Regions from separate parts of the Homo sapiens genome. Here region 1 is linked to region 2. Evidence: fine-mapped expression QTL. A gene starts in region 2. The other region holds a variant in brackets. All regions are shown on one strand. Distances are between the middles of the regions. Region 1 overlaps IGSF23 (immunoglobulin superfamily member 23). Region 2 holds the start of PVR (PVR cell adhesion molecule).

Region 1 (2,908 bases), 26 kb after region 2:
CGTATCTCATGAATGTCTGTTGCAAGTCTTGGCTGTTATAATGTGGATATTTATCCCTGCCAAAATCTCATGTTGAAATGCGATCCCCAGTGTTGGTGGTGGGGCCTCAGTAAAGGTGTTTGGGCCACAGGGGCGGATCCCTTATGGCTTGACGCTGTCCTCATGGTAGTGAGTTCTCATGAGATCTGATTGTTGTAAAATGTGGCACTTCCTCTCTGACTCTCTCTTTCTCTTGCTCCTGTTCTCACGGGAGACACCTGCTCCTCCTTTGCCTTCGCTATGATTAAAAGCTCCCTGAGGGCTCCTTAGAAGCTGAGCAGATGCTGGCATTACACTTCCACCTGTGGAACCATGAGCCAATCAAACGTCTTCTTCTTTTTTTTTTTTTTTTAAATAAATAACCCAGTCTCAGGTATGTCTTTATAGCAATGGAAGAACAATCTAACACAACGACAAAAAATAGCCACAACACATTGCAACTCCTCTCCTTAAGAGGTGGGGCCTTTTTCCTTCCTGTTGAAGCTGGGCTGGCCATGTGACTTGCTTTGACCAATAGAAGGTGGCAGAAGTGATGGTGGTCAGTTTTGAGCCTGGGCCTGAAGGAGTTTTGCAGCTTTACCTCTTGTTCCTCTTCCATTGCTGAGTGAACAAGCCTGGGATAGCCTGCTGGAGGTTGGGAGGCTATGTGGCCCACTCATCCCCATCACTCCAGCCACCAGCTGGTCCATGGCCAGGCACATGAAGGAGGTCATTCTGGACCAGCCAACACCCAGACACCCCAACAGCTGAACACAACAACTGTCCAGCTAGATAAGTGATTGATGTTTTAAGTTTTGGGGTGGTTTATTGGGGAGCAATGGATAACCAGCATGCAAAGTGTCCTGGTGGGCTCTTCTGAGGTCCAGTGGGTCTGCTTTCTGAGAAGTCAGCCCCTCCCACTGCGGGGCCCCACTCACTCTTGACATGGATCTGCTCCGTCACACTCCTGTGTCCCCTGCTGGTTTCCAGCACGACGGTGTAGCTGCCCGAGTCCTGAGCCGTCATTTTCTAATGACCAGGCTGCCTTGGGTTCCCAGCATCTCCCGGCCAGTGTGAGCAGGTCCTGGGAGGCCCTTCGGGGAGAATATCATGGCTGCTGGCTGGGCGTCATACCCTCAGAACCAAGACGTGGTGAGAATGCCTTCAAGCCTTCCGGGGACAGGAAGATGGACACTGGCTCCTTCGGTCAAGGTGTTCAGCTGTGCCGAGAAGGGCAGCTC[T/C]GAGAAGGCAGAGCAGGTGCAGGATGTGAGCAGGGCGCCTTGGAAGAGCAGGGAAGGAGGAGGAATCATTGATTCCTCTCCTTGACCCCTTGAAGCACGCACGTATATTATACTGGATGTTGCAAAAATTGGTTTTCTACCCTTCTCTGCTCCACTCTGCTGCCTGAAAGGCTGACTTCTCTGAGCTGTGTTGTTGGGGTCCCCTTACCTTTTGCTGCTGGTTGGTTTCTGTCAGTGGGCACGTTGGCAGAAGAGGAGAGGGCAGCGGGGGAGTAAGCTTGAAGGGATTAGTCCTACAGTTGGCTGGGTCCTTCTGTTCCAGCCCACAGCTCCTGTTGAGTGTCTCTCTCCATATACTACTAATGTCTTCTGGTTCTGGGATCTGCTTTGCTCCATTTACTCCTACCCAACCCCTCACCCAACATTTTCTCACCACCTTATTTAGAAATAATAAAGGGTTATAAATCAATGTGAATGGTACATTTTTAAAGGGTGACATAATGTTTGTTCTGGACACTGATTAAGTTATAACCTTGCCACTATTTTTTCTTTTTAAAATTAACAAATACAAATTGTGTATATTTATGGTGTACAATGTGATGTTTTAAAATACATATACATTGTGGAATGGCTAAATTGAGCTAATTAACATATGCATTACCTCATGTACTTATTTTTTTTGTGGTGAGAACACATAAAATCTACTTTCTTAGCCAATAATTTACTCATTTAAAGCGTACAATTCAAGAGCTTTTAGTATACTCACAGAATTGGGCAACCATCACCTCAAGCAATTTAAGGACATTTTCGTCACCCCAAAAAGAATCCCTGCGTCTCTTGGGCACCACACCTAATCCTTTCACTCCTGATAGGCATTTTTTTTTTTTTTTTAATATAAGAGTAGGCCGGTGTGTTGGCTCATACCTGTAATCCTGCACTTTGCGGGGGCGGGGGGAGGGGTGGGGCAAGGCTGGAAGATTACTTGAGCCAGAAGTTCAAGACTAGCCTGGGCAACTGAGTGAGGCCCTGTCTCTACAAAAATAAAAAATTCGCTGGGCATGGTGGCACGCGCCTGTAGTCCCAGCTACTCAGGAGGCTGAGGTGGGAAGATTCCTCAAGTCCAGGAGTTTGAGGTTTCAGTGAGCTATGATCCTGCCACTGCACTGCAGCCTGGGTGACAGAGCAAGACCTTTCTCCCTCTCTCTCTCTCTCTTTTTCTCTCTCTCCCTCTCTCTCTCTACATATATGGTATTACTCATATATACTCATATATATATATTTATTTATTTCCATTTTTATAGCAGAAAACTTAGACTCCTAGAAATAAACACTATGTTTTGGAAACTTTTACTGTTTTTTTTTTTCAAGCTTTATGCTTGTTATTGTTTCTATTTCCTTCTTCTTTTTTTTTTTTTTTTGAGATGGAGTCTCGCTCTGTCGCCAGGCTGGAGTGCAGTGGTGCAATCTCGGCTCACTGCAAGCTCCACCTCCCGGGTTCAAGTGATTCCCCTGCCTCAGCCTCCCGAGTAGTTGGGACTACAGGCGTGCGCCACCACGCCCAGCTAATTTTTTTGTATTTTAGTAGAGACAGGGTTTCACCATGTCGGCCAGGATGGTCTCAATCTCCTGACCTTGTGATCCGCCTGCCT
Region 2 (2,843 bases):
TAAAAATACAAAAATATTAGCCAGGCATAGTGGCACATGTCTGTAATCCGAGCTACTCGGGAGGCTGAAGCAGGAGAATCGCTTGAACTCGGGAGGAGGAGGCTGCAGTGAGCCGAGAGCAGGACACTGCACTCCAGCCTGGGTGATGGAGTGAGACTGTCTCAAAAAAAAAAAAAAAAGAATGAAAGAATGAATGAATGGCCAGGCCCCTGGAGTCAGACATTGGGGGTCAGAGGGGTAATGGTGTCAAGTGTCACCCACTGTCCTCCTCCCCAACATCAACCATCCCCTCCGTCCAGACCCAGCCTGCCAGCACGCTGCTGGGTTATGGCCTGGGTATGCTGAGCAGGAACCTGGGTAAGGTAATCCGGCATGCGTCACCATCTGCTGATTTTCCGGGATTCACTTGCCTTTTTGGGAAATTTCCTCACCCAACTCCATCCCCTTTCCGAGGGGCCCAGAGGAGGGTCTTGTGCCCGACCCGTGTTGCTGCCAATTTCGAGGAATTTCTGTACCCAACTCCGACCGCTCTCCGGGTGGCCAAGAGGAGGGTCCTGCCCTCGCACCCTCGCACCGTGTTCCTTCCAACCCCGGGGCAGAGATGGGGGGTGGGTGGCGCCGGGCGGGGCCGTCATCTTCGGGAACCCAAGGGGGCGAGTACCCGGCCTGGATGCGGAGCTGGGAGCCAGACAGGGGCCACCGGACTGCGCGGGGGTCACTCACCGGTTCCTGGGGGTGGCCAGGACAGCACCAGTAGCGCCACCAGCAGCAGCGGCCACGCGGCGGCCATGGCTCGGGCCATGCCAGTTGCTCCGAGCAGCTGGGCCTCCCGCGGGCGTCTCCTCGCTTCCCGGCGCCCGCTCGCTCTGCCGCGGTCGCTGCGAGTCCAGCTCCCGGAGCTCAGGTCCTGGAATCCCCGGGGGGCCGCTCCTCCAGTGCCTGGGGTGGGAAGGGGAATACCCACTTCTTCAAGCTCCAGACAAGTGACTGGAGCGGAGGGGAGTTGGCGGCCAGTCCCGCCAGGCGCGGGGTGGGCCACCCAGGCTGGCCCTCCCCGCGCGCCTGCGCCTGCGCAGGTCTCTCCCGGCGCTCAGTCCCGCTGCAGACGCGCGCTCGCTCCGTCGGTGCCCACTAGAAGAGGCGGCTTCCTGTGTGAGGTCGCCCACATTCCAGGTGAGGAAACGGAGGCACACGGAGAGATTCAGCAACTTACTAACGGCTCGCGGTTGCCGAGTGGCAGAGCTGAGGTTCCAACTCGTGATGGGACAGATCCTGAGCCCACCAGGCTGTCCTTCCACGCAGCCTAAACTTCCCATGGGCTTTGGGGTCAGACAAGACCAGGGCTCATGTTGGGCAAGTGGTTTCTCCTCGAGGGCCCTCAGATTCTTTATCTGAAAAATGGGCATAGTAGGGCGCGGTGGCTCAGGCCTGAATTCCAGCATTTTGGGAGGCTGAGGCAGGAGGACTGTGTGAACCCAGGAGTTAGAGGCTTCAGTGAGCTACCATTGCGCCACTACACTACAGCTTGGGTGGCAGAGCCAGACCTGTCTCAAAAAAAAAAAAAAAAGTTTGGGGGCTGGGGGAGCAAGCGCAGTGGCTGACGCCTGTAATCCCAGCACTTTGGGAGGCCGAGGCAGGAGGATCACCAGAGGTCCAGGAGTTCAAGACCAGCCTGGCCAACATGGCAAAAACCCATCTTTACTAAAAATACAAAAATTAGCCGGCATGGTGGCACATGCCTGTAATCCCAGCTACTGGGGAGGCTAAGACAGGAAAATCACTTGTACCCGGGAGGCAGAGGTTGCAGTGAGCCAAGATCGGGCCTCTGCACTCCAGCCTGGGCGACAGAGTGAGACTCTGTCTCAAAAAGAAAGAAAAAAGGGCATACTAACAGTACTTACCTCACAGCGTGGTCTGTAAAACTTAAACAAGAAACTGCCTAGCTCAATTTCGGGGATATAGTTTGTACTAAATAAAAAGCTGATATACCAACAATAGCAGCAGTGGCAGTGACAATTATTATTATTGTTGCTTTACAGTTGGCATCAAATAATAATGTTCATGAGAATGGTCATTCATTCATTCTTCATTCAGCATATATTTATTGATCCAGCCAGTATCCCAGGCACTGGGTATACAGCAGAAAATAAGACAGACAAAAATCTCTGCCTTTAATGAAGACCGTGTTCTAGTGGAGGGAAACAGACCATAAACAGATTAATACCAGAACTCCATCAGGTCTGGGGAAGATAAGGGTTATGGACCAGCCTGCAGTAGGGAGAGGGGAGGAGGGAGGGGGGAGAGAGAAAGAGAGAGAGAGAAAGAGAGAGAGAGAAAGAGAGAGAGAGAGAGAGAGAAATGAGAGAGAAACAGACACACTCAGAGATAAGGGCTGGGAGACAGAGACAGAGAGATTGAAAGAGATAGAGACACAGCATAGACAGAGGGAGATGAGAGAGAAATGAGAGGTGACAGAGAGACTCAGAGAGCCAAACCCTCAGAGACAGAAACTGAGAGACTTCCTGGTCCCCAGAGGTGGCTGTCCTGGCCAGGGTCTCCATGAGGCCGACTAACAGCTCTGGTCCCTGTGCTCTGACATCTTTATATGTTTTTTATTTTTATTATTATTTTTAGACAGGGTCTCACTATTTCACTGAGGCTGGAGTGAAGTGGCGCCATCATTGCTCATTGCAGCCTCCACCTCCTGGGCTCAACTCCTGCCTCAGCCTCCTGGGTAGTTGGGACCACAGGCATATGTGATCACACCCAGCTAGTTTTTAAATTTGTTGTAGAGATAGGATCTCGCTATGTTGCTCAGGCTGGCCTTGAATTCCTGGCCGCAA

What was found.
Region 1: its variant is fine-mapped to the expression of PVR in whole blood (GTEx, PIP above 0.99).

Annotation. Positions count from the first base shown.
Region 1 is chr19:44,616,465-44,619,372 of GRCh38, reverse strand. All of the region lies in intron 1 of IGSF23 (immunoglobulin superfamily member 23), which reads right to left. Among named protein-coding and RNA genes, the nearest start is that of IGSF23, 4.4 kb to the right of the region's middle. The variant T/C (reference allele first, on the strand shown) is at 1,260.
Region 2 is chr19:44,642,056-44,644,898 of GRCh38, reverse strand. It overlaps PVR (PVR cell adhesion molecule), which reads right to left and starts at 989. Exons shown (of 8, transcript NM_006505.5): 1 at 724-989. The coding sequence starts at 802. RefSeq lists a silencer at 958-1,037.